4 linked regions of the Homo sapiens genome follow. The protein of the gene in region 1 purifies or fractionates together with the protein of each later gene. This does not show direct contact. Each region holds a gene or a part of one and is shown on either strand. Other genes may lie near its edges.

What was found.
Region 2: the proteins of ZBTB44 (region 1) and KLHL21 purify together in Homo sapiens (affinity purification with mass spectrometry; 2 studies listed by BioGRID and IntAct, with this or other methods). This does not show direct contact.
Region 3: the proteins of ZBTB44 (region 1) and NAE1 purify together in Homo sapiens (affinity purification with mass spectrometry; 2 studies listed by BioGRID and IntAct, with this or other methods). This does not show direct contact.
Region 4: the proteins of ZBTB44 (region 1) and UBA3 purify together in Homo sapiens (affinity purification with mass spectrometry; 2 studies listed by BioGRID and IntAct, with this or other methods). This does not show direct contact.

The regions. Positions count from the first base shown.
Region 1 is NC_000011.10:130,227,892-130,234,917, forward strand, and holds part of ZBTB44 (zinc finger and BTB domain-containing protein 44), read right to left. Parts: intron 6,383-7,026; coding exon 6,265-6,382; coding exon of another isoform or gene 6,100-6,264; exon of another isoform or gene 5,492-6,099; coding exon 5,465-5,491; coding exon of another isoform or gene 5,418-5,464; 3' UTR 5,417-5,417; exon of another isoform or gene 3,825-5,416; 3' UTR 1-3,824. UniProt on the Homo sapiens protein: May be involved in transcriptional regulation.
Region 2 is NC_000001.11:6,599,870-6,606,841, reverse strand, and holds the start of KLHL21 (kelch-like protein 21), read left to right. Parts: upstream 1-3,972; 5' UTR 3,973-4,024; coding exon 4,025-5,045; intron 5,046-6,972. UniProt on the Homo sapiens protein: Substrate-specific adapter of a BCR (BTB-CUL3-RBX1) E3 ubiquitin-protein ligase complex required for efficient chromosome alignment and cytokinesis.
Region 3 is NC_000016.10:66,820,969-66,827,994, reverse strand, and holds part of NAE1 (NEDD8-activating enzyme E1 regulatory subunit), read left to right. Parts: coding exon of another isoform or gene 1-15; intron 16-1,214; coding exon 1,215-1,318; coding exon of another isoform or gene 1,319-1,327; intron 1,328-1,411; coding exon 1,412-1,472; intron 1,473-3,109; coding exon 3,110-3,140; intron 3,141-4,394; coding exon 4,395-4,466; intron 4,467-4,688; coding exon 4,689-4,768; intron 4,769-6,435; coding exon 6,436-6,545; intron 6,546-7,026. UniProt on the Homo sapiens protein: Regulatory subunit of the dimeric UBA3-NAE1 E1 enzyme. E1 activates NEDD8 by first adenylating its C-terminal glycine residue with ATP, thereafter linking this residue to the side chain of the catalytic cysteine, yielding a NEDD8-UBA3 thioester and free AMP.
Region 4 is NC_000003.12:69,056,359-69,063,384, reverse strand, and holds part of UBA3 (NEDD8-activating enzyme E1 catalytic subunit), read left to right. Parts: intron 1-247; coding exon 248-403; intron 404-1,205; coding exon 1,206-1,308; intron 1,309-1,457; coding exon 1,458-1,571; intron 1,572-6,075; coding exon 6,076-6,129; intron 6,130-6,569; coding exon 6,570-6,606; intron 6,607-6,691; coding exon 6,692-6,773; intron 6,774-7,026. UniProt on the Homo sapiens protein: Catalytic subunit of the dimeric UBA3-NAE1 E1 enzyme. E1 activates NEDD8 by first adenylating its C-terminal glycine residue with ATP, thereafter linking this residue to the side chain of the catalytic cysteine, yielding a NEDD8-UBA3 thioester and free AMP.

The sequences.
Region 1 (7,026 bases):
CTTCTAAATCCTGGAGATTAAATTTACTCTTAAAAATGGAAATACAGGAATTTTAAAGTAAAAAGAAAAGGTCTGTTCTAAAAGTTCTTTCACAAATATATATATTTAAATATTAAAATAGGCTACCTAGGATTTTTATAAAATGGCTTTTGAAAAGATAGTAGAGGCACAAAGAAGCCATATACTATCCTCCAAGTTGGACATAAGGTGCCACAAGGCTGCCCTACAAAGAGGCAGGCAATCTCTACCTGATGCAACGGGAGGCACCAGTAAACAACAGAAACATTAAATACATTATTGGGAACTTGGACCAAAACCAAATTTTACTCTATTAGGGACCGTTGCTTTTTTAAAAAATACCTTGAGATATAAGCATTAGAAGTCATCACTTTGTACAAGGAAGAAAATGAATACAGTTTATGATCTTACTCCTTCCAAATACCTGATGTCACTCATTTCAGGTACCTGAAAGATGAAAAGCAGTGCAACTTTCAACAATTTAATGGACTACTCTCATTATGAGAGACTTTACACAGCATCTGTCAACTTGAAAATTAAATTGGTAACTGAAATAAAAAATCGCCTAGAGAAAACACACATAAGCTAATCCTAGAAAAGGCTCTCCTTAGAAAGCAGGTGTTTCTAAGAACTGCAGGAAAGGCTTCCCATCTTGAACACAGCTTCCACTAATACCAAGGGAAACGTGCATTAAGAGGAGAGATGACAGGGCTCCCTTAAAGCAGGAAGATTTATCCTTCCTCAGCAGGTGATGTACTTTGGTAACCTCAACATTCATTTATGGGATGATTTTTCATCTGTTTTATTGAATAATGAAATCTAAATGTGGCTAGATTGGCATTTGGGAAAACAAGGGCCTTTTAATAAAAGTCCTGACACTGGAGCTCCTCCCACCACTAGGCACCAATTTTATCAGTATATCGCCACAACCGTGCCTGGGACTTTAAGCTTCATCAGCAACATCAGTCAATTTAAACGAGAAAGGAACTAATAAAAGAATTTGACTTTATAAACCAGGTACTTTGAACAAAAACTAAAAATTTTAAAGTTAAAAAAAGTTTTGTTTTTAATCCGCAGTCCTTACTCTTAAGTTCTCTGTAAACTATTATGCACACAGAAACCTTGGTATTAGCTGAAGCCGGCCTGGGTCTTGCACAGTGGGGGTTTACTTAAGTAAAAGTAGCACAAACATTTCAAAGACAATCTCAATTTTTCAGATACTGCCAAACCGAGATACCAATAACATCTGAAATCTTTGCAGAGACTATTTATAAAAACATGGAAGTGTTTTTATTTTCCCATCATAAAAATATAATCACGATAGAGTGGAAATGTCTAACTGTATTAGTTTAGTAAAAAGTTAAAAAAAAGTATGACCACTGATGGTACTGGTACTACAAGTCTTCATCCCATAACTGACACAGGCTTAACCCCCCATAAATATTACAACATCTCAACTTATCTATCGTCTAAAATGAAACATCCAGAGAGCGACTGTTCTTAGTTGAGCCTGGGATTGAATCAATTCCACTTTATTGTTTAATCTGAACCATTATTGCTTTTGGCTAATTCATCTTGCTGAGGACTTTCCAAATAAAAATACTCTGTCACCATACTGTCAAGCAAAAACGACAATGAAAGATAAAAATGGGTATAGGCAAAATAAGGAACAACTTAATTTAAATGTTCATAGTTTGAGTTTAAAGCCTGTGGGAGTATGCTTAGTTTTAATATTCCTCATAGACATGTTTGCCACAACAGAGCTTCCTTGTTACCCCAATTTTGTTTCACTGCTTCAGAAAAGAAAATTTAGCTTTTATACATTCATCTCTCAATAACTTTCAAAATCTAAATATATTACAAATAAAGCATCTTACGTCAATAACTTACTTACAGTGAAAACTACATTTATTTATTACCTTCTGGCAACTTTGGGTCTGTTTCTTCTAACTGTAAACTTCACACTAGTTTTTTTTTCCCAGTTAGTATTAATATTTAGAAAATTTTTAATTCTCATTCACTTGGATGTGTATTTCAGAATTACAGCTTCATACTTTGCAGATGACTGAAACAAAGTAACATATGAAAGTTTCTAATTCTTTTGTTCATTCCACAAATCTCAAACTTCAGCTAAAATATTAAAATTTTAGGATTATTCATTCAAGTAATAAGTCTCTGTTACAGAATTGCCACATTATACAGTAATGTATTTTTCAAGGACTATTAAAGCTAAAAGGGACTAAAACATAATCTGAGAATCTTCAAGAATAAAAGCTGATAAAATAGATAACTGGCCTCTATTTAGATTAAGAGAAAAAATTAGAAATAAAAGACTGAAAGATTTAATACAGCTTCCAAAGGCTCCCAAGAGAACCATTTATAAACTGGGAGAGTCTCCTGAACCAGCCTATTAGTTAGAAGGTAACTGAGTTACCAATAATTATGGACATCAGATGTATTGACTAGTCTATTTCATTTGGCAAAGTATTTTAACAAGATGAAAGTTTTTTTTTTTTTTTTTTTTTGCTAGTTATTAAGAACAAAGGGCATGTGTCGTAACAGGGGATCTAATTACTGTAAGCCAGAATGATTGCTGAAATGTCAAAATGTAAGATTGAATGAGGCTATTTAAACATTTTAGTATATTTTGTCTTACTGAAATTGATAAAAAAAAAAAACTGGCAATGTAACTAAATGCGTAACTAATTACTTGAAATAAAAAGATTACTTGAAATTCAAATTAAGAAAAATCCATTTAAATATATTTGTGGGTGATAATCTCCATCTGCATCCATTTATATAAAACTTAAAATGCCAAAAAATAAAGACCAATATTAATCTCTTTATTTCTGAATGAGATGAAATCACTGACATGTTTGATGCTTCCACTATTAGAATATACCCTTTAAACACGAAAAGAACAACTGCAGGAGCTTTAACATCCATTATCATGGGTGAACATCTTTGTTTACTTCTAAAGTACATCACACCTATTTGGTAGTTAAAAAACTGAAAATAAAAGCTTGTACAAAATGCTTGGTTTTAAAAAGGCAATTTATTCTGCATTCTGAAATTTAAGCCCTTTAGATACCACAAAGTTACCCTCCTGGCCTTAAGAAAGATAGCTACGTTTAAGCACTCTAAACTGGAATATTTATGTTTAGTTACACTGGTAATTTCTAATGAATGGGATAATATAACTGGCTATCTCTTTGCAATATTTTCAATATGTCCTGGTAAAAATTATGCATCTAGGCATCCCTAAGATGAATTTGAAATAAACCTAAATACTACTATATATACAATTATCCCTTGCAAATCTGTTTCCTAAAACAGATCCATAAACAGATCCAATATCCTTAAAGTACATATATATCAAGAAAAATGTACCCTCACTGAAATAGAAAAAGGCCTTTATTTGTATCATTTTATGTTAAATACTGGTTAGTTACTGGTATTGATAAGATCTGGGCAGCAGACAACTAACCAGATATGCATTTTCACAGTATATTCAGATTTCCCATAAAACTTGGCAATGTGTATTACCAGTGAAAATCTAAAGTTTCTACTTGGGAAGGAATACCCAGTGATGGGTAATCCCTCATTCTGAGAACACAGTCAGAATATCTTGGAGCTACCAACATTGTGCTTGGCTCTTAATGCGAAGTTTTCAGGGTTGGGGATGTGCTAAAAACACTTTTAACCAATCAATCTGCAAACCATTCTTACACGTTTCTCTTCTTTATTCTTCTTTCCTTCTTTTCTTTTTTCTTTCCTCTTGCTCTTTCAAAAACCACCTCTTGGAACTAAGGGTAACAATGATTCCTGGTCATAATTTTACCTATTCTTGTCAATACAGATTTTAAAATTAATTTTGAGATTTATCTATTGCTAGGCCTAACAGTTTTCAAAGACCACAACGTAACATTAAAATTCCTGACCTTTCCAGTTGAGACACAGCAGTACTATATGAAGTATTATAGTCTGCTGCAGAAAGTAATGCAACCCTATCAGTGAAGAAGCATAAATGGTGGGAGCCTATCATAACCTGTATATGCTGATTCTCCTGAAGGGAACACACCTATGTTTGGCAGCAAATGGGTAAAAACAAGTTCATGAGTGAGGTAAAGAGTTGAAAACAAGTTAAGGACTGCAGAATATGGGCAGACACAGAGAATCTTAACCTAAAACAGTTCTAAGGAATTTAATTTACTTTTCCTTTCTTCACATGTTTTTGGGGAAAAAATTACAGAATTAGCCAATCTAAAAAAATGAAACAAATCACTATAATTAAAAATATATACATTTAGTATGGTCTAGCACCTGAACAAAATTCAGATCTTGTGTTTTGACTAAAGAACTGTATTTTCTGTCTATCAAATCAGGTGCTCTCATAATTATTAAACTTTGGGTATCTACACAGAAACTTATTCCAAAGTTCACTGCTCATGGACTTACAAATATTTAGGATCAATATTAGAGATGCTTTAATGGCACCAGATGAAAAGTATACCCAAGTCTAGAGGATCATACAAATTTCAACTACAGACCAGAAAGTTTCATATTTTTAGCAGCAGAAATAATATTCATTAGTTTAAGGTTTTCAGTTTCTCATTAGTCTTAATAATTTTTTTCTCCCAGATTTATGAGTCATAGATGAAAATCTTACAGTCTATACTCTTCATTGTTGCCTACGTTGTGTAAAAACTATAGTTAACTGTTTTTAATAACTTTGCAATGTCTAAAAATAAATATGTAAGGACAATGTATCGCTGTCATATGGGATTCAGTAAACAATCTAGTTGGGTTAAGAATGCAGCCTTGGCCGGTGCAGTGATCCCAGCAGTCTGGGAGGCCAAAGGAGGAGGATCACTTGGTCTAGGAGTTCAAGACCAGCCTGGGCACCATAGTGAGACCTCATCTCTACAAAAAATAAAAATGAAGTTAACCAGGTGTGGTGGAGCATGCCTATAATCCTAGATACTCAAGAGGCTGAGGCAGGAGAATGGCCTGAGCCCAGGAGTTCGAAGCTGCAGTGAGCTATGACTTAGCCACTATACTCCAGCCTGGGCAACAGAGTGAGATGCCATTCTTTTAAAAAAAAAGAAAAAAAAAAAGAATGTAGCCTCAATAGAGAATTATTTATTATGTCCAAAAGAGCACAATGAAAACATCCCCAACAACACATAAACCTATATATAAAATATAGAATATCTCCAGTATTTTTACTTTATATGGCAGCACGCCAATATATGCAAGAGAACATATTGATGGGGCAGGGGGAAAACTGATCCGGGCAATGACACAGTCAGGCATTACATTCGGAGACCAGGTAAACAGCAATTTTAATCTGAAAAGCAGTATGAGAAGAGTTCCTATGAAGCTGGGATTTACATACTTCATTCTCCGTTCCTGGTCATTTCATCCACAGCTTGACTGTTGTCAATCATGGTTCCTTGCCTTTGGAGTGGTACTATAAAGGTACAGAGAATGCCCATCTCAGTACCAAAATTTCACCATGAAAAATCATAACAGAAATGACAAAGCTTAAAGAAAAGTACGCCGGATTTCAGAAGTATTTACCATAATAATTTTTAAGAAAGCTTACCATAAATACTTCCAAAAACAACAGGCTTTACAAAATATTATACAACATCCTGTGTACAGCAGTAAGTATCTACTCAGGCCATTTGTCAAGCTGTTTAGTAATTAGTTTCTCATGTACCCTCTTGTCTCAAGAAGGTCAATAATCATCTGATTTCCTCTCTAGCTAATGATCTGTTGTTAGCCTACTTTTAACAATGGAAGAAGGAACTGGTATATGTTTTAAGTCAACCAGTTCTCCTTAAGTCTCATAGTTTCTGTTTCAACATCATGTTATTGTGTACTTACAGAAGCAATCTCTCAGTTAGGAAAAATAAAATCAGTTTCAGGGCTCAGAAAGTAAAAAGGGAAATTCTTTCCCAATCTCCCCCTCCCTCCCACCCGGCTTTTTTTGTTTAAAAAATTAAATTAAATTTAAATGTACAAGACCAAGCACAGGCACTTTCCAAAAAACAAAACTGAAGCCAAATCACAAAACTACTCAATAGTTATAGAAGACAGCTCTGATTTTGGGGGGTCATCTCTGGTTGCCTCAGCACAAGCACTGCTCTTTGGCTGCTCTGGCACTTCTTCCTCTTTTTCTGCCAGCCCACCAAGAGACCCCAAGGGAAAAGTGCTTTCACAATTCTGGGTTGAGGAGACCTGTGAAATGACAGGCATTTGAACAGAGGAGTTGCTTTCAAAACCGTGTTCTCCAAGATCATATTGAACAAGGGTCTCTTCTTGTTCCTGGTTTAAGTAGTCCGGTACTAGGAAATCACTAGATAAGAGGCAAAGGATGAAATATGGAATTAATTTTCAAACCAGTAATAGATAAGCAACAGTAAAAAGCTCTGATTTATACAACAAAATTGGGACTCTTCATTTCACTAATTGTTCAGTGAAGATTAAAACTCAGGAACTTTCAACTTATAAACTTTCCTAAATATGAACCAAAACATCCATTAAAACCAAAATGTATCAATCTTCCCCACCACCAATACATCAGGTTAATTATCACTTTCATTATAACTCTGGACACCTTAACAGCCTTTCTTGTTCTATGTAGAGGAGTTTCTATATACAAAACAAATGTAGCATGCTCACTTAAACAAAGATCATCTGAGTAACTTTAATGCTAAACTTTTCTTGATTATACATTGAGTAAGAGATATATAAACCTAGCTTTGTATTACTAAACTTGACATAGGTTAGTTAAGAAACTAAGTCCTTATGCATAAATGACCTGATACATAATCTACTATAAAGTTGGGAAATGTAGAAAGTAATTTATGTGTATCCTGCTATTACATTTGGTATATGAAAATACTAATAAAGAATTTGGAAATGAATGCCTTGAGATTGGTTATGTGATAATCCTCAAAACGTGTTCAATTATTGGTCCCCACAGGCAACATGGACAGT
Region 2 (6,972 bases), on another chromosome or scaffold:
TATATATGGTAAGTGCATTATACCTTAGAAAACCTGGAATCTGAAAAAATCAGAGTGTATGATATGATACAAGAAAAGGCACAATAGCTGTGGACGTAATCAAGGCTAAGGAGTGTGTTCCTAAATATTCTTAAAGAAAAAAAAAGAATAACAGCTGCTCTTTTTTTTTTTTTTTTGAGACGGAGTCTTGCTCTGTCCTCCATGCTTGAGTCCCATGATCTCAGCTCATTGTGACCTCCGCCTCCTGGGTTAAAGCGATTCTCCTGCCTCAGCCTCTGGAGTAGCTGGGATTATAGATGTGCACCACCGCGCTTGGCTAATTTTTGTATTTTTAGTAGAGATGGAGTTTCACCACGTTGGCCAGGCTGTAAACAGCCACTTTTAAAATGACCTTAGGGTCTGGCATGGTGGCTGATGCCTGTAATCTCAGCACTTTGGCTCAGCACCAAGACTGGAGGATTGCTTGAGTCCAGGAGTTTAAGACCAACCTGGGTAACACAGCGAAACCCCGTCTCTACAAAAAATTTAAAAAATTAACCAAGCGTGTTGGCTCACGCCTGTAGTCCCAGCTCCTGGGGAGGCTGAGGTAGGAGGATCACCTGAGCCTGGGAGGCAGAGGTTGCAGTTAGCTGAGATTGTGCCACTGCACTCCAGCCTGGGCAACAGAGGGAGATCCTGTCTCAATAAAAAAGGTAACATGGCCAGACCAGGTGGCTCATGCCTGTAATCCCAGCACTTTGGGAGGCCGAGGCGGGTGGATCATCTGAGGTCAGGAGTTTGAGACCAGCCTGACCAACATGGAGAAACCCCATCTTTACTAAAAATACAAAATTAGCCAAGAGTGGTGGTGCATGCCTGTAATCCCAGCCACTCAGGAAGGCTGAGGCAGGAGAATTGCTTTAACCCGGGAGGCAGAGGTTGCGGTGAGCCGAGATCGCGCCACTGCACTGCAGCCTGGGTGACACAGCGAGACTCTGTCTCAAGAAAAAAAAGGTAACGTAATTTTAGTCACCTCTTGCTCTGTCTGCCTTAAATTAGAATTTAAATACCAAAATTAAGTTGTTTTTTAAAATAATAACTATTTGTTAAATCACATCACACATTAAATCACTTTTTAATTTGTAGCCTCAGAATGTTCAGGTAAATCACATTATCTTAAATTGCTTAGGCAATGGCCATTTTTGTAATTTTAATTTTTTTTTTTTTGAGATGAAGTCTCACTCTGTCGCCCAGGCTGGAGTGCAGTAGCGTGATCTCAGCTCATTGTAACCTCCTCCTCCCGGGTTCAAGCTTGAAGTGTTTGAACCTGGAGGCAGAGGTTGCAGTGAGCTCAGATCGTGCCAGTGCACTACAGAGTGAGACTCCGTCTCAAAAAACAAACAACATGTCATCTAGGTGGTTATGTTCATTTTGTTTTTGCTTGCCTGCATTCTCTTTCTGTACTACACGTACATTATCTGTTAATGTTAATTTAAGTTCAAAGTAAAATTAAGAATTCATATCTTGAGAAAAGAAGTATTTCATTGATAACCGGGGCCTACCAGGCATGTGAAACCATGTATATATATAGATAATTCAACAAAGGAATGTGGTGAGAAAAGAAAGGAACCGATTTAGACCTATCAGCTGTGTTAGGAATTTTGAATAACCTACTAACCCAGGCATGCTATTTAGCTCTTTCTTTTTTTCAGGGGTGGGGCAGGCAGAGTGGGAGCAGTGGAACAATGACAGCTCACTGTCATCTGGGCTTATGTGATCTTCCCACTTCAGCCTCCCAAGTAGCTGAGACTAAAGGTGCATGCCACCACGCCTGGCCAATTTGAAAACTTTTTGTTGAGACAAAATATTGGGTCCCACTATGTTGCCCAGGCTGGTCTCAAACTCCTGGCCTCAAGAAATCTTGCCCCAGCCTCAGCCTCCGCGTAGCTGGGATTACAGGCGTGCGCCACAGCACCCAGCTAATTATAATTGTTTTATTTTTAGTAGAGACAGGGTTTCGCCATATTGGCCAGGCTGGTCTCGAACTCGCTACCTCAGGTGATCCACCCACCTCGGCCTCCCAAAGTGCTGGGATTACAGGCGTGAGCCACGGCGCCTGGCCGAAAATGTTAACTTAATAAATTTTTTTAGGCATATGAATACATATAAATCAATTTGGGTCATACAATGAGTAATCTGATTTTTCGCTTTATAGCTCAAACATCTTTCCATTTCAATAAATACATCATTATTCTTCAAGGCTACATAGTAAGACTGAAATATGATGTTTAAAAATCCCTGTTATTGGGAATACAGAAAAACCGTACTCAATCCTCAACTATGGAAACATTATTGATTTAATCACTGGACTTACGCAAGATGGGTAAGCTGACCCAGGGGACGGGAGTTCTTTTCCCTACAAACATTCCACTTCCTGGCTACTCAGCCTTTCTTGTCACAAAGCCTGTGCAAGGAAGCTATTGGCCCTGCTCCTGGGCCCAGGAATGCTGCCGCTGCCTTGAATAGCTGTGTGAACAGTCCTTCTATGGGCAACAGGCGGCCCGCCTGGGTACCTGAATGTTTTCTGATTTGGGCCTGTGCTGCCCATGCTCACCCTGAAATTCAGACCAGATGCATTCTTATGGCAAAATGACGTGAAACTCTTAAGTAGAAGAGAAAGCCTGCGGTTCTCATTTCAGAGGTGGAATAAAAACAAAATGTCTTCTGGAAACGCTACGCGGCCCTAGACCTCGCTGGAACCAGGAAATGATAGCCAGCTCCCATGCGCGTGGCCTGCTCTGGGACCCACGTGGGCGGGCGCCTTCCTCAGGAATGCGTTCTCAAAGGCCCACCGGTGTAGGGGGGCTGGAAAACAGCACAAACCCAAGTGTTCTCTGCAAAGCAGCAGTCCTGGTGGTGAAATAGGGGTCTTTTCTAAAACTGAGCAAAGCCTACCTTCCACTGAGGAAAAAATGGCCTCCAAGGGAGGGCTCTTTTTCCCCTACAAGTGACATTCAAAGTGGTGCTGTGTCTATCGGAACTAAAATAAGGGCGATTCCTTCTTTCACCATTCCCCACCGCAGTACAAGTGACGGCGGGACTGTGCTTAGTGGCGTCATCTAGTTTCAAGGCGGTCTCCTATCTGACTTTGAGCCCTCGCTCTTTATACCCAGTTACCCTCTCGTGGAGTCCGAGCAGCTGCTTCAGGGAGGCCCGGGAGCCCCTAGGGCGGGCAGCCCCGGAGCCTGCAGCTGCGACGCAGACTCGGAAACTACAACTGCGCGTGAAGCCGACTAAAGTTAACGCCTGTGTGATTGAGTCAGAAGCTCCTTCAGGAACACAGGAGTGGGGCCGACTCCTGGAATCCGGCCCCGGGTCGCTTATAAATGCGCCAAGAAAAAAACGTCACCGAAAAACTTTATACGCGTTCTTGCTTTGGTCCAGAATGGTAAAAAGCCTATCCTTTGAGTGTGTCCCGTGATGGGGTTAACTAGCAACCCTTGAAACTAGTGGAACTCAAAAGCAAAACAAAAAGCCATTGTACCCAGCCGCCCCGGGACCTGGGCCGGCGCCCTTGGGAAGTCTGGCGTGAAAGGAGGGGTGGCTTTGGTTTCAGGGCCGAGCTCGCCTCTCCCGGGTTGGGTTCAGCAGCCGGGCCGGGTGGGTCGTGGGCAACCCCGGGAGGCCCCCGGTCCCGGCGCGCGGCGAGGCCGCCCTCGGACCTGGCACTTGTCACTCGCTGTCCCCGGCCCGGGCGTCAGCGGGGAGACGCAGAAGGGCGGAGGGAGGGAGCCGGCCGCGGACAGCGGTGACTCAGCCTGCGGAGCCGGGGGCGGGCGCCGCGCGGGGGACAGGCGAGCCCGCGCTCGCGGGGGGCGGTGGCGCCCGGCACAGAGGGGTTAAGGGGGCGGTGCAGACGTCTCCCCGCCCATCCCGCCCCTCGAGAGCCGCGGCGCCCCGCCCTATTTATAGCAGCGGTGCCTAGCGCGCCGCGTCTCTCCGCAGGCCCCGGCCGCGGCGTCCTCGACAACCTATCGAAGGCGCCATGGAGCGACCGGCGCCCCTGGCCGTGCTTCCCTTCTCGGACCCCGCGCACGCCCTGAGCCTGCTGCGCGGCCTGAGCCAGCTGCGCGCCGAGCGCAAGTTCCTGGACGTGACCCTGGAGGCGGCGGGCGGGCGCGACTTCCCGGCGCACCGTGCGGTGCTGGCCGCCGCCAGCCCCTACTTCCGCGCCATGTTCGCGGGGCAGCTGCGCGAGAGCCGCGCCGAGCGGGTGCGCCTGCACGGAGTGCCTCCCGACATGCTGCAGCTGCTGCTGGACTTCAGCTACACGGGCCGCGTGGCGGTAAGCGGCGACAACGCTGAGCCGCTGCTGCGCGCCGCCGACCTGCTGCAGTTCCCGGCCGTGAAGGAGGCGTGCGGGGCCTTCCTGCAGCAGCAGCTCGACCTGGCCAACTGCCTGGACATGCAGGACTTCGCTGAGGCCTTCAGCTGCTCGGGACTGGCGAGCGCGGCGCAGCGGTTCATTCTGCGCCACGTGGGCGAGCTGGGCGCCGAGCAGCTGGAGCGGCTGCCACTGGCGCGCCTGCTGCGCTACCTGCGGGACGACGGGCTGTGTGTGCCCAAGGAGGAGGCCGCCTACCAGCTGGCGCTGCGCTGGGTCCGCGCTGACCCGCCGCGCCGCGCCGCGCACTGGCCGCAGCTGCTGGAGGCCGTGCGCCTGCCCTTCGTGCGCCGCTTCTACCTGTTGGCGCACGTCGAGGCCGAGCCGCTGGTGGCGCGCTGCCCACCCTGCCTGCGCCTGCTGCGCGAGGCGCGCGACTTCCAGGCGGCGCGCTACGACCGCCACGACCGCGGGCCCTGTCCCCGAATGCGTCCTCGCCCGTCCACCGGTCTCGCCGAGATCCTCGTGCTCGTGGGCGGCTGCGACCAGGACTGTGACGAGCTGGTCACTGTCGACTGCTACAACCCGCAGACGGGTCAGTGGCGCTACCTGGCCGAGTTCCCAGACCACCTGGGCGGAGGCTACAGCATCGTGGCGCTGGGCAATGACATCTACGTGACGGGTGAGTGGGCCAGGGGCTGGGCAGGCTCTCTGGGGTTGAACCTCGCCGGTACGGGAGCCCAGCTATTCGCGGGGGAAGCGCACAGAGCCTGGAATCCTAGGGGCGCACCTGAGTCCAAGCTGGGGCTCTGGTGACTACATGTCTCTGGGCGATACTTTTAACCTTGAAGAAGGGCCCCTTGTGTGAGCCGGGACAAGTAGCTGCTTGTGGGTCTCTGTGCCCCGTGCGGCCGGGGCTGCCAGGCTGAGCCAACTCCGTGCCCAGGAGGTGCCTCCCCACTTGGTTGGAAGATACTGGGGCATTCACCCCGCACAATGGGTGCTTTCTTTTTCTCCTTAAGGAATCCAGGGACGGGCAGGAGGCCGACGCCCGGTGAGGCATCTGTTCCCCACAAGCCGGGGAATTTCTCCCTCCCTGCTGAGCCACACCGGGCCCCCTGACTCACTCTTTGTCACCCGGTGACAAGGTTCCCTTGGGCTTGCACCTAGGCTCTGTGCTCTGGTCACATGGTGTTTAGGCTGAACTCCCCGGAGCCTGTAAACATGGTCACATGTTAAGAGGTTTTCTTCCAGTTACTTGGCCCAAACCCCAAAACACTGCCGAGTCATGGTAGGCGGGTCCCAGTCCGCCTGAGTTTGGGCTTCTACGGTTTTTATTAAAGATAAATCCCAGTTCAAACACGAGGCTACCTCCTTTGTCGGGGTGAGGAAGGGCGGTCTCTGTGACTGCTATATAAGGAAAGAACCCACCAGGCAGGCGTGTGAGGCGGTTATCAGGCAAGGAGGTGGGGACTGGGATGTCACAGCTGCTGTGCCCAGCCTTGCATGTTCGCGAGAGAGCCCACTCTGGGACGTGCTCCGAGTTCCAGTGGGGCTCTGAGGTGTCAGGTGGGACAGTTGCTGGATTCTGTTGCCACAGCTTCCTTAGCCTGCTGCTCTGAGTCCAGCCTCTGCTGGGTTCTGCCAGAATCTGTGCCTCTTTCCAATCCAAGGTTGTCCCCAAGTTGATTGGGGACCGTGTCCCTCCCCTCTTCTGAAAGTCTGACCAGTGGCTTTGAGCAGATAATTTCTTCCCAGAACTGGCCACACTGGCCCCAGCTTTCTGCACACCCTTCCATAAATGTCCCAGCAGAGCAGTTAATCCCTTGGGTTTAGGCAGGTGGCTGGTTCATTCCTTTCAGCTGCCTTTCACACAGCTCCATGGAAGGGAGGAGGCCGGCAGAGCTCACTTCCTAAGAACAAGAACTTGCTTTTCTCCCTTTAGAGCTCAGGGCTGTGAAACAGAATGTCTTGTCCGCTCTGTCCTGTGGCGCCAGCCTGGGAGGCCAAGGGGTACAGCCCCCAGGATGCTTGGGGTCCCTTCATGTCCTGGGGTTTCTAATAGACCTGGTGTAATTTACGATTACAGCCAGTACCACTTTTTATTCTTAGCTTTTTATTGAAATTGAAAATACGGGCCGGGTGCAGTGGCTCTTTGTAATCCCAGCACTTTGGGATATCAAGGTGGGTGGATCACTTCAGCTCAGGAGTTCGAGACCAGCCTGGACAACATGGCGAAACCCCGTCTGTACAAAAAATACAAAAATTAGCTGGGTGTGGCGGCATGTGCCTGTTGTCCCAGCCACTCAGGAGGCTGAGGTGGGAGGATTGCTTGAGCCCAGGAGGTGGAGGTTGCAGTAAGCTGAGATCATGCCGCTGCACTCCAGTCTGGGTGACAGAGCAAGACTCTGTCTCAAAAATAATAATAATAATACAGGCAGAAGAATATATATATATATATTATACTTACACAGCTTCGTGGATTTTTCTAAACCAAACACAGCTTTGTAACCTGCACCAGAATCGAGAAGTGGCCTCGCAGTGTAGCGTTAGGTCTCTTGCTTAAAGCAGGAAGTGGGTTTCCGCTCATCTTGTCCTGGCAGAACCTT
Region 3 (7,026 bases), on another chromosome or scaffold:
AACAAATGAAGCCAGGTACAGTGGCTTGTGCCTGTAGTCCCAGCAACTCTAGAGGCTGAGGCGAGAGAAATGCTTGAACCCAGGAGTTCAAGACCAGTCTGGATAACATAGTAAGACCCTGTATCAAAAACAAAAACAAAAAACAAGGCAGTTGCTTGACATGCTCTGGAGGACATACTGACTACATAATAAGGGGTAATCTGCTTTAAATCAGGTAACAGGGAAGGCACATTAATCACTCTATTAGAATGTTCATTGGGTAATATACTTTAAAGCACTCCTGTAGAAGTTGATGTGAGGCTTTTCAGATGATAATTCAGTTTTCTTGGTAAAGCTTTTGCAGAAGTCACAGTAATAAGCCCTATGTCGAGATCTTAAATGCATCTAACTTAACTTAAATGCATCTAATATAATTTTTTTTTTTTTTGAGACGGAGTCTCGCTCTGTCGCCCAGGCTGGAGTGCAGTGGCGCAATCTCGGCTCACTTCAAGCTCCGCCTCCTGGGTTCACGCCATTCTTCTGCCTCAGCCTCCGAGTAGGTGGGACTACAGGCGCCTGCCACCACGCCCAGCTAATTTTTTGTATTTTTTAGTAGAGACAGGGTTTCACCATGTTAGTCACGATGGTCTCGATCTCCTGACCTCGTGATCCGCCTGCCTTGGCCTCCCAAAGTGTTGGGATTACAGGTGTGAGCCACTGCACCTGGCACATCTAACATAATTTAAGAATAAATGAAATAGGGCTGGGCACGGTGGCTCACACCTGTAATCCCAGCATTTTGGGAGGCCAAGTGAGCTGAGATCATGCCACTACACTCCAGCCTGGGTGACAGAGCAAGACTCTGTCTCAAAACAAAACAAAGAATAAATGAAATAGAAAACAGATGAGGGTTTAAATCCAAAGACGCTTTTTAAATGTTTGTTTGTTTGTTTTGAGACAGAGTGTCGCTCTTGTGCCCAGGCTGATAAGGGGCTGGAAGACCAAGTTTCTGTTTCTAATTTGACCCTCTCCCTCTTTTCCCCTAACCATTCAAGGCATCAACCTGAGTTCTAGATTACTGTATAATCACTATACTAATATCTGTTCCCGTCTTACCTGTATTCTGTGGTTATCATATCAGTCTATGCAAGGAAAGTTTAAAGATCACCATTCAAATAAGAAAGCTGTATTTTCATGAAAGTTTTAAAAACATCAAATTTGTGTCTGTTTTGTAGGTTGTGGGGTGATCATGGGCAAGAGGCTTTAGAATCTGCTCATGTTTGCCTAATAAATGCAACAGCCACAGGAACTGAAATTCTTAAAAACTTGGTACTACCAGGTAACGTAGGTTTGTGGTTGTGTTCTAAATATACTTCTTTAAGTTTATGACCTAGAACTATGTATTCCTGACTGACTCTGTTTTGGCTCTCAGGTATTGGTTCGTTTACAATTATTGATGGAAATCAGGTCAGCGGAGAAGATGCTGGAAACAAGTATGTTCTATTCTCTTCAAATATATTCACGTTAAGGAAGGCAAGGCCTGAGTCTTAGCTTCACCTCCTCAGTCAGGGTGACTCGACTCTCAGTGGAAATCATCCTTATGTTTGGGATTATGGTGAGGAAGTGAGATAATATAGGTAAAGTGCTAGTACAGCATCTGGCAAATAGGGCATTAATAAATGTTACCCATCATTACTGTCTTTATTGTTATTAATACAAAGGAGTAGTCGTTATTCCTTTATTCATGGAATATGGGCACTTCCTAAGCTCTTGTATTGATCCGTAGGTGTTAGCATATAATTAACAATAATGCCTGTTGTTTGTGATGTCTTTTAGGCTTAGTCTAGGGGTATCTCTCTTTACAGTGTCAACAAAAATGCTGTTTTAAAGATGGCCTGTATATTATTCTTTAAAGATTATATTTAGACTTTCAGAACATGCCCAAATTTGGATTTAAAGCTCACCTTTTCAGGGACTTGAAGTCTGGTATCTCTCATTGTGTTTGTCAGTAACAACAACAGTGAGTAAATATAAGGGAAACCAGCAATTAGTTCATATTTAGTTTTGATGCCTTTTCTTTGGATCGTAGTGCCAGTTTCTGCCAGGCACAGCACAGCTTTTTTATTGATATATACCAAGAAGTCTTGTTATCTTTGCTTACTTGGTGGGTTAGAGTAGAAAGTGATAAAAATAAGGTTTCTTCTTATGGAGCCAGTGAGCTTATACCGAAAAGTGGCATCCTGACTCTGATCAGCAGCCTCATATCTGGGCCTTGAGACATGTCAAGGGTATGTGTGGGAGGAAGCCTGAATAAATCTGTTACAGTTACGTGCAAAAACAAATGGTTCAATACACCGAGAGTGGTCTGTGGAACACCGGTTCTAGGGAACGATAAGAGCTGTTAAATGGGCCAATGGGTTCCATAGTGAAATTAGTTTGGGAAATGGATCAAATGAAGTAAAAATTTCTTTACCATAAGATTTTAGTATCACATGTATTATGTGTATTATGAATTTCCAAGAGGGAAATATAGTATATGGTGTTTCCCAAACTTTTTTTTTTTTTTTTTGAGACGGAGTCTTTCTCTGTCGCCCAGGCTGGAGTGCCGTGGTGCAATCTCGGCTCACTGCAAGCTCTGCCTCCCAGGTTCACGCCATTCTCCTACCTCAGCCTTCCGAGTAGCTGGGACTACAGGCGCCCGCCACCACGCCCGGCTAATTTTTTGTATTTTTAATAGAGACGGGGTTTCACTGTATTAGCCAGGATGGTCTCGATCTCCTGACTTCGTGATCCGCCCACCTCGGCCTCCCAAAGTGCTGGGATTACAGGCATGAGCCACCACACCCGCCGGTGTTTCCCAAACGTTTTTAGCCAAGGAACCCTTTTCTCTCAGAGGATCTTGTGAAATTCACATGCTGTGGTACACAATTTGGGAAAGAAACATTGATTTATTAGCCTATCTTTCTTTATAAGTTCCATCTGATTTTCTTCCTCCAGGAAGGCCATTACAGTCTGTAATCACAATATAGTTTGTTTTATACTGTGAATGAAATATGCATGCTATTACAAACAACTTTTCCTTTATAGTCAGTAAGCTTTACTTTTTTTTCCTTTATTCTGTTCACTTTAGTTTCTTCCTTCAAAGAAGCAGTATCGGCAAGGTAAACAATTAGAGAATATAGTTGGATGTGAGCATCTAATGATGCCCCTGTGTTTTGATTGCTTGAAAAGCTTTGACTTTAAAAACGTGTATTATTTCTCTGAGAAAAAAGTTAACTAATTTTTGTAATCTTGTAAATCTTCATATGTTTGGTAGTTTAAGAACTTAGAGGTGTACTGTCTGTGTTTATACATTGCATCCTGTATTAAAGCTAAATCTTGAGTAATGTTAATATTCATTCTGGTTAACAAATTTTTTTTTTTTGAGACGGAGTCTCGCTCTGTCCCCCAGGCTGGAGTGCAGTGGCGCGATCTCGACTCACTGCAAGCTCCACCTCCCAGGTTCACGCCGTTCTCCTCCCTCAGTCTTCCGAGTAGCTGAGACTACAGGCGCCCACCACCACGCCTGGCTAATTTTTTGTATTTTTAGTAGAGATGGGATTTCACCGTGTTAGCCAGGATGGTCTCGATCTCCTGACCTTGTGATCCACCCGCTTCAGCCTCCCAAAGTGCTGAGATTACAGGCATGAGCCACCACGCCCAGCCTAAAAAATCTTACAAAACCATGTTAGTCAACTTAGTGAAATGACTTTTAGCTTAGTGATTAACCACTCTTGTACAGGATTATAGATGTGGGTGGTTAGAGTGAGTCTGAACTTGATCCAGGATATCCCTGCCTGCTACCCAGAGTTTTTTGGTCATTTGCCTAATCAAAAAAGTAGAGTACAAGTAATGTCATTTGAGAACTCTGGATGATGATGGTTTTGCTCTGTTTTAAGTAATATTCTGTTGAGTCTTAAACACTAGGAGAAGCAGAATTGGCTGGGAGCAGTGGCTCACGCCTGTAATCTCAGCACTTTGGGAGGTCAAGGCAGGAGGATTGCTTGAGACCAGGAGTTCAAGACCAGCCTGGGCAACATGTCAAGACCCTGTCTCTACAAAATATTTTTTTAAAAAATTAGCTGGGCATGGTAGCACATGCCTGTAGTCCCACCTACTTGGGAGGCTGAGGCAGGAAGATTGCTTAAGCCTAGGAGTTCAAGGCTGCAGTGAGCTATGATCAGGCCACTATGCTACAAACTGGGCAACAGAGCAAAAGCCTGTCTCTAAAAAGAAAAAAGAAGGGAAACAGAGTTGTCATACTTATGCATGAAATTTGGATAGTTTTACAGTATGTTTGCCTGTTCCATAAATTGGGGGATTATATTGTGACCAAGTTTTTTCTAATTCAAGTTAAATGCTTTGTTTTTAAAAAGAACCGAGCTGAAGCTGCCATGGAATTCTTACAAGAATTAAATAGCGATGTCTCTGGAAGTTTTGTGGAAGAGGTATATATGTACACACATTATTATGTCTGTGCTGAAATACAATTTTTTAAATAATTCAAAGCCCCAGAAATTTAGAATTTTGAATCTTTGTGTCATTTATGATTAGTTGAATTGGAATTGTTGCCTCATTTGTTGTAAAATAGCTTAACTGTCTCTGCCATGTTTAATATGATTGTGAAATTGGTTTTTTTTGTTTGTTTTTTTCTTTGCTGTCCTGTTTAGAGTCCAGAAAACCTTCTAGACAATGATCCCTCATTTTTCTGTAGGTTTACTGTTGTAGTTGCAACTCAGCTTCCTGAAAGGTAAATTTTTATGTTAATATGTTTTTATTTTAATCTTATTAGATTTGCATTGTTTTATTTTCTTTGCACAGTCTATGATGATATGGTTTTAAAAATTGTTAAATTCTATAGAAACTTTAAATATGAAACTTTTTTTTTTTTTTTTTTTTTGAGCTTGAGCTCAAATTCCTGAGCTCAAGCAATGCACCCTCCTCGGCCTCCCAAAGTGTTGGGATTACAGGTGTGAGCCAACGTGCCTGGTCAAGAGTTTCAGATTTATGGCTGGGCACGGTGGCTCATGCCTGTAATCCCAGCACTTTGGGAGGCCGAGGCAGGTGGATCACGAGGTCAGGAGATTGAGACCATCCTGGCCAACATGGTGAAATCCCATCTCTACTAAAAATACAAAAATTAGCTGGGCGTGGTGGCTCACGCCTATAGTCCCAGCTACTCGGGAAGCTGAGACAAGAGAATCGCTTGAATCAGGGAGGTGGAGGTTGCAGTGAGCCAAAGATCGTGCCACTACACTCCAGCCCTTGTGACAGAGTTAGACTCTGTCTCAAAAAAAAAAAATAAATAAATAAATAAATAAATAAAAGAAATTCTTAGAAATCTTCCAGCATTGAAAAGATGAGGAAGAGAAAAATACTGAAACTTTTTTTTTTATTATTATTCTTTAGACAGAGTCTTGCTCTGTTGCTCAGGCTGGAGTGCAGTGGCACAATCTTAGCTCACTGCAACCTCTGCCTCCTGGGTTCAGGTAACTCTCGTGCCTCAGTCTCCCAAATAGCTGGGATTATAGGCATGTGCCACCGTGCCCGGCTAATTTTTGTATTTGTAGTAGAGACGGGGTTTCACCATGTTGGCCAGGCTGATCTCAAACTCCTGGCCCCAAGTCATCTGCCTGCCTCAGCCACCCAAAGTCCTGGGATTACAGTTGTGGAGCCACCAAGCCTAACCTTAGATGTGAAACTTTTGGAATATATTTAGAGCAGTTAAACCGAACATTGTTTTTTTGTTGTTGTTGTTTTTGTTCTTTGTTTGTTTTAGTGATTAAAAACTAGTTAGAATTGATTATTGAAGGCTGGGTGCAGTGACTCATGCCTGTAATTCCAGCAGAACCAGGCTGAGACAGGTTCAGATCACTTGAGCACAGGAGTTTAAGACCACCTGGGCAACATGGCAAAACCTTGTGTCTACAAAAACTACAAAATTTAGCCAGATGGTGTGCCTGCTTGTGGTCCCAGCTACTCAGGAGGCTGGGATGGGAGAATCACTTGAGCCTGGGAGGTCGAGGCTGCAGTGAGCCATGATCATGCCACTGCACTCCAGCCTGGGCAACAGAGAATTGGTTATTGGAATTGTTAGGGGTGTATTTGTGGGTTTTATATTTTTTCTCTATCATGGAAATGTTTAGAATTATCTTTCTTTAACGTTTCTCCTTAATATGACAGACTAAAGTTTCACATCCCTCTTGTCCAAAGATGTACTTTCTTTGAGACTGCAGCCTGTGGAAATGCTTGCTTTTCAGTGTGTTCTTGACCTGCTTATGTAAATGCAGTTATGTACCTTTGCATCTATTATTTAGTAAGAAAGTTGCTGTAAGACATTTTCATGTTTTGCATGTTTTCATGTTTGGCATATTTCCATTTGCTTATGTTCATATTTTGCTTTTTTTTTTTAAACAGCACTTCACTACGCTTAGCAGATGTCCTCTGGAATTCCCAGATTCCTCTTTTGATCTGTAGGACATATGGACTAGTTGGTTATATGAGGATCATTATAAAAGAACATCCAGGTAAAATTGTTGAGCATATGGGCTTACTATTGGTTGCTTTAGCTATAATTTTAGAAACTTGACAATTTAGAAAGTCAGTTTTAAATTACAAAGTAAATTTGTAGCAGCACATCTCTAGTTGCAGATTCAAAGTGGCAATCAGATTCAATAGGCTGCAATCTACTCTTTATGTAGCATTATAGAAGGATACAAAGCATGATATACCACAGGCACAGCTTCTTCATCTTATTAGGAGATCCAGCAACTATGCAAGTACCCAGCTTCTTTTGCCCCCTAACCCACATTGGGCATGTATGGCTGTGGAGAGCTAAGGAATGTGGATCACTCTGACCCATGAAGTTACACCACCTTTCCCCACTCCAGTCTTTTTTTTGTTTTTTAAGACAGAGTTTCGCTCTTGTTGCCCAGGCTGGAGTACAATGGCACAATCTTGGCTCACTGCAACCTCCACCTCCCGGGTTCAACTGATTCTCCTGCCTCA
Region 4 (7,026 bases), on another chromosome or scaffold:
ATCCCCAAAATTAGAATTGATATATTTTTGAAAAATCAGAGTTTAATTTTTAATTAAGTATATTTACTTCATTGTTTATTGCCAGTCATTGGTTTTCAGGTGAAGACACAAATTGTTATTATAATCCCTTGATTTGATACATTGGTATTCAATAGCACAACCGACTCATAGGATTACTTGAAAGCATACTTCTTCTTTTGAATTCTTATCCCCTTCTCCTTTAAAGCCCTTCAAATTGTTTTCCTAGATATCTCTTCTAAATTATGAAGATGGTGTCTTAGATCCAAGCTCCATTGTCCCTTTGATAGATGGGGGGACAGAAGGTTTTAAAGGAAATGCCCGGGTGATTCTGCCTGGAATGACTGCTTGTATCGAATGCACGCTGGAACTTTATCCACCACAGGTAATCAAAAAAGCACCTGCATTTCTTTTATAGTATCTTGGCATGGAATTAGGGATTAATTATTAAGTCTAGTTAATATTTAGGATTGTTAATTAGAAGTGGCCGTATTTTAAAAATTACACTAAGAAGAAAGATAAAATATGAAATTCTGCTCTATTTGAGGAAAGATATGAACCGAGTACATTGTTTTGATACTATTCTGCTTTCATAATTTATTTGTATTTTTTATTTGGGGAGTAGGTATCAAGTAGAATTACAAAGTTGTATATTGATGTCAAGCTGTAATCTATGTGGTTTTCACCTGTATTTATTTCAGGGAAATAAAGATACCAGGGATAAGAATGATCTTTCCAAGGATGGGGCTTTTTGGTTTACATATCCACTTTAAAGAACACTTGAAATTTTGAATAATAAATGTAAACAATTTTATGAGTATTCACTTGGGATTCACTTAACTCTGAACTTGCTTTTGTTTTGGTTTGCTTTATACTTAAATATTAGGTAAAAATAACAAGGTGTTCATATTTGAGAAAATCTGTTCAGTATTTTTCTTCTCATAGTCTAACAAAGCTTAAATTTTATACCTTGTAAATGTAGGGCAAACCTGTCTTTACAGGCAGTGCAGCCTAAGTGAAGTGACTCAGTTAATCTGTATTATAGTTTGAGAGGCATTTTTAATGGTATACAATATTTTGAGTTGAAACAAATTGTATGAAATTGTTAAGAACTAGATCATAACTGGAAGTTGCATTTTAAAATAATTCGTTTAAAATTCACTGAAAAGGACAAACTGTGGTTTTAGGTTAATTTTCCCATGTGCACCATTGCATCTATGCCCAGGCTACCAGAACACTGTATTGAGTATGTAAGGATGTTGCAGTGGCCTAAGGAGCAGCCTTTTGGAGGTAATAAACCTAATTTAATAATCTAGAATTACATAAAATACATATTTTTTCTATATTATTCCTTTGGATAATTTCATTAAAAACATTGTTTTGTGATTACGTATTCCTGTCTTCTCTCTCTCTCTCTCTCCCTTTTTTTTTTTAAACAGAAGGGGTTCCATTAGATGGAGATGATCCTGAACATATACAATGGATTTTCCAAAAATCCCTAGAGAGAGCATCACAATATAATATTAGGGGTGTTACGTATAGGCTCACTCAAGGTAAGTCAGCAAATTGTCATGAATTATGATGTTGGGATGACTTAGGGCTGGGATGCTTTCAGGAGAATAATCGATAAGTGAGTTTAGACAGTACCATCCACTTGAAGTTCAGTAAAGGTACCATGTAATTCATACTACTTATTAGCTAGGGGGAATTTAATAAAATTATTGAATCTTACTTACTTAGGCTATAAGTCATCCAAGTCAAACTGTCCATTTTATCTTCCACTGAATTCATCATCTCTTAGAGACAGTCTATTTCACATTTGGACAGGACTGTTAGACAAATATTCTATATATTGAACAGAAATTGTCTTCAGGTCAGCTGCGGTGGCTTATACCTGCAATCCTAGCACTTCGGGAGGCCGAGGCAGGCGGATCACCTGAGGTCAGGAGTTCGAGAGCAGTCTGACCAACATGGCAACACCCTGTCTCTACTAAAAATACAAAATTAGCTGGGTGTGGTGGCACATGCCTGTAATCCCAGCTACTCAGGAAGCTGAGGCAGGAGAATCACTTGAACCCAGGAGGCTGAGGTTGCAGTGAGCCTGAGATTGCGCCACTGCTTTCCAGCCTGGGCAACAAGAGCAAAACTTCGTCTCAAAATAGAAATCGTCTTCAGTTTGGTCTGACTGTTGTCCCAGTACTGTATACAGTCTAATTCCCTTTTAAGTAATAGCTTTTAACATATTGAGGACAGTGATCACATCCTTTGCAAATTTTTATCAGTGCCATAAACCTCCCTAGTTAGTTCCTTTAACCCTGTATTAGTTCATTTTGCTTTGCTATAAAGGAATATCTGAAACTGGGTAATTTATTCAGGAAAGAGGTTTATTTGGCTCATGGTTCTGCAGGCTGTGTGAGCATGGCAAAAGCATCTGCTTGGCTTCTGGTGAGACCTCAGGAAGCTTTTACTCGTGAAAGCTAAGGGGGATGGCAAGGCATGTCATATGACGAGAGGGAGCAAGAGAGAGAGGAGGGAATACCAGGCTTCTTTTAATAACCAGCTCTTGCGTGAACTTAATATCACAGGGAGGGCACCAAGCCATGCATGTGGGATCTGCCCTAACGGTCCAAACACCTCCCACTAGGCCTCACCTCCAACACTGGGGATCACATTTCAGTATGAGATTTGGAGGGGACAGATATCCAAACTATATCCAACCCTTTGATATGTTGTACAGCTTCAGGTTCTCATGTTGTTTTTCTGTAACCATATTCCAGCTATCCATATTGGTTAACTGGAATATAGTTAGAGAAAACAACTTTTCCTAATTGTTCAGGCCAACATGCAGCATTATGGGACTGGTCTTAACTTTAGATAATAGACTTCTGATAACTGATGCAGTCTTAAAGGAGAGCAGGTATTTATGTTGTTGTTTTTTTGTTTACATTGATGCTATACTTTGGATTCTTTGATGTTACTAGCCACTGAAAGCTGGATGTTTTGTCCACATATGCAATTGCTAAGCCACATCTGCCTATTATAAACTTGGCAGTTTGGGGAGTGTCTTTTTTTTTTTGTTTTTCTTAATATCCAAGTATAGGTCCTTACAAATGTATTCTTAAAATTCAACCTGTTTTTCTCTCTTTATATGTATTCTGCCAACTTACCTGGTGTTTCTAGCTTCATTTCACCTGTTTTGATAATTATATCCTTTATTTCTTTTTCAAATAATTGATGAAAATTTTTAATAAGACTGAACTCTCTGAGAACAGACATCTGAATCATACTTCTGGCCAGGCCCTTTTAGGTTTATCTCATTCTGTTCATCAGACCTTCTTGGTACTTTGTATTTCTTTATCTTGTTCACAAGGATGTCATGAAAAACCTTTCCAGATCCTCTACTGAAGCCTAGGTATGCTATCTTTTGCATTTTCCTGAGTTGCTAAGTTAGTCATAGTAGCCAAATGAGGCTACTCCAACATGATTTGTCTAGTAACCAGTCATGCTCAATCATAGTGATCAATGTTTCCAATCTAGTTATAGTTTCCTTTTTTAGAATTTTGCCCAAGATCATTACCAGGTTCACCAGAATGAGCTTTGTCTTCTTTTTGAAAATCTGCCATTTCTCTCCTGTGATTATTTCCTTACATTTACTGATCTAGTAATGTCATTTTAAAATTCCATTTATACTTACTCCTTGTTGCCCTCTGCATTCTCCCTACACGGACCTGCTTTGTGTTCCTTGAACACACCAAGTTCTTCTGTACCTTAGAGCTTTAATACTCCCGAGTTCCTACGCCGGGGATGGTGTTTCCTTGGATCCCCTCAGGCTGGCTCCTCATCTCTTAGGTGTCTGCTTAACCAGTTTTCCTAATCATTCAACCTAAAATGACTTCTGAGCCATTCACCATTCTATTTTTTTTGGTAATTGCTCAGAACTGATTAATGGTAGCCTCATTCTCCTATGCAAAGAATATTTCACACTTAAACTATCTTACATCCTTGCCCCAGGACCAGGACCATTGCCATTGCTGTTTACAAACAGCTTTTTCTTCAGGTAATTGCATGGCTGGATCTCTCTCATGGCTTAGGTTTCAGCTCAAGTTATCACCTCTCCAAGGAGGCCTTCCCTGACCATTCTCTCTAATGGACTGCATCCATCATTCTCAGTCTAACACATACCTCATTTTCTTCATAGAACTCTTCAATATCTGAGGTGTTCCAAGTATTTACTTTTGTGTTATCTCCCCTATCAAAATGAAATCACTATACGAGCAGATACTTTTTTTCATTGTTACTATGCACAACACCTAGAACAGTGTCTGGAGCATGTGTTACACATATTTGCTAATTGTTAGAATTAACAAACGAATTCAGTGTGTTCTAACCAGAAACTGTAAACTCCCCATTTTAATATGTAGTCTCATCCATCCTTCTTTACCTTTTACCAGGGCTTGGTGTGTACTTTCTAGGCTGGTGAATGAGGGCCTCAACAAGGAGTACAGAAGGAGAATTGGAAGTGAAGTTGCACAAGCCAGTGGTTCTATCTATTCTATGATTTTTCCCCTTGTTCTCAGTATAACAGAAAGTTGCCTTTCTGCCCACTCTAGCTTTTTTTGGTCGAAGGGCAGGGGTATGGGTGGCAGGGGTTGGAGAAAGAGGGGAGTCCTCATCATTTTGGCAATGTTCTTACTGGGCAGTGTCTCTTACACGCTTCACTGTTTGTGTCTACCACTTCCTCCTTTCAGTACATCCTGCTACATGTGGTTCAGTGGAGAGCTTCCAGTTTAACCATCATGCAGTTTATCTCTTTTTAAATTTCCTCTTCTCCAAAACTATAGAGAATCATATGGTCACAGTCAACTTTTTAAAAAAGCTTTCCAGCCTTCGTAACTGTCTTTCTTTCATGTCTTCTTAGCTACTTGCTGTTTTTCCTTAAGTTTTTGAAACCTGACTATACTTGGAGTCTTGGGAACACATCTTACAGTGTTTCCTCACACTGTGAGATAAAATGGCTACTTTTTCTTGAAGTTTTTGTCTTCTAAAATGAACAATTCAAATATAGTTATAAAATGGAGTATTTATTTTGTACTTTTAAAAAATGGTTTAAGGTGAGGCTTTGTTTATTCCTAATATGTGAATAATACTGATGTGAAAAATGTGAGTCCCAGCACTTTGGGAGGCCAGGGCGGGCGGATCACAAGGTCAGGATATCGAGACCATCGTGGCTAACACGGTGAAACCCCATCTCTACTAAAAATACAAAAAATTAGCCAGGCGTGGTGGCGGGCCCCTGTAGTCCCAGCTACTTGGGAGGCTGAGGCAGGAGAATGGCGTGAACCCAGAAGGCGGAGCTTGCAGTGAGCCGAGATCAGATCACGACACTGCACTCCAGCCTGGGCGACAGAGCGAGACTCTGTCTCAAAAAAAAAAAAAAAAAAAGAAAAATGTGGGGTTGAAGTAGAGAACTGTATTTAATATTTTGTGTAGCCTCGGTTGTAGAGTAAAAGATAATAAAGGGCAGCTTTTCTTTTTTTTGAATGTTTGTGAATCAAGTGACTGAAGCTGTTACAGGAATAATTAGATAACACTTATTCTTCATGGTGTATCAGTTAATATCTGTGTTCATATGCCAACCCCACCTCTTGCTAAGTATATAGCTGTGGATAAATTACTAAATTTCTCTCAGTCTCACTTTTCTTATGTTTAAAATCAGAGTAATTAACATGAAGATGTTGTGAAAATTAAATAATATTTAGTCTTTACATTGTGCCTGGAACATAATACTCTAAATTGTTAACTATTATGATGTTATTGTTTCACCTTTCTATAGCACTTACTTGAGAGAGTTTTCTTTGCTACTGTAGCTTAAGATTCTGAATTTACTACAAAGTGATGGGGATGTGAAAGATTGTTTCATGGTTAAATTTATTTTCTGGCTTGAAAGTCTGAAAAATCAAGTTTTAGAAAATGGTATTTAATAATCATGCCTTCTAATTTAAGAGAACTCTTTTATTTTAAAGAAATGACCATATTTTAATTGATATGTTTTTTCAGGGGTAGTAAAAAGAATCATTCCTGCAGTAGCTTCCACAAATGCAGTCATTGCAGGTGAGGAAGAAAAGGCCATCACTTAGTTTATTTTGCTTTCTTTAGTTTTTGACGTTGCTGCAGCTTTTTTGTGTTGTAGGAATTTGATATCTTCTTGGATGGGTTGTGTAACTAAGCTGTCGAAAAAGAACCAGTTATTAGACTTTGCATATTTTTTGTCTTACATTATGTCTTAAGTTACCTGCAGTAAAGAGACGTTTTAGTTCCATATGAAGCAGGCCATTTATTAATCTGATAAACAAGAAAAACATGTAGTGTTACTCTATTACATGAATCACACAAAACAATGTAAAATTTGTTACTGTCTCAGTTTTTAAAAATTGGAATATGTATTTTTTAATGAAGAGCCAATGTAAATTTATCTGTTCTGATTTATAACTGACTTTTAACATGCCTAATTTCCATTGAGTTAAAGCACCTGTATTTTCTCCTCCCTTCAGCTGTGTGTGCCACTGAGGTTTTTAAAATAGCCACAAGGTAATAGGTTTCATTTTTAATATGCATGTAAATTTATGTTTTGACTTGGTTTAATTATATAAAGATGAACATTTTTTCATTACAGTGCATACATTCCCTTGAATAATTACTTGGTGTTTAATGATGTAGATGGGCTGTATACATACACATTTGAAGCAGAAAGAAAGGTTAGTAGTATTAAGAACACATTTTTGATCATGCATATTTTGATTTTTAAATATTATTGGTTAGAAATTTGAACAAAGTCACCCATACATTTTCTAACTTCCAGAACTCTACTTATTATATATCTTTTGCTTTATAGCCTGAAATAACTCTATAGCGAAGTAATTTACAAGAAATGGTCTATTATGAAAAGCAGGCTTTAAAGCATAAAAATTTTTTTATAGGAAATATGCATGATTATAAAACAACCTGATT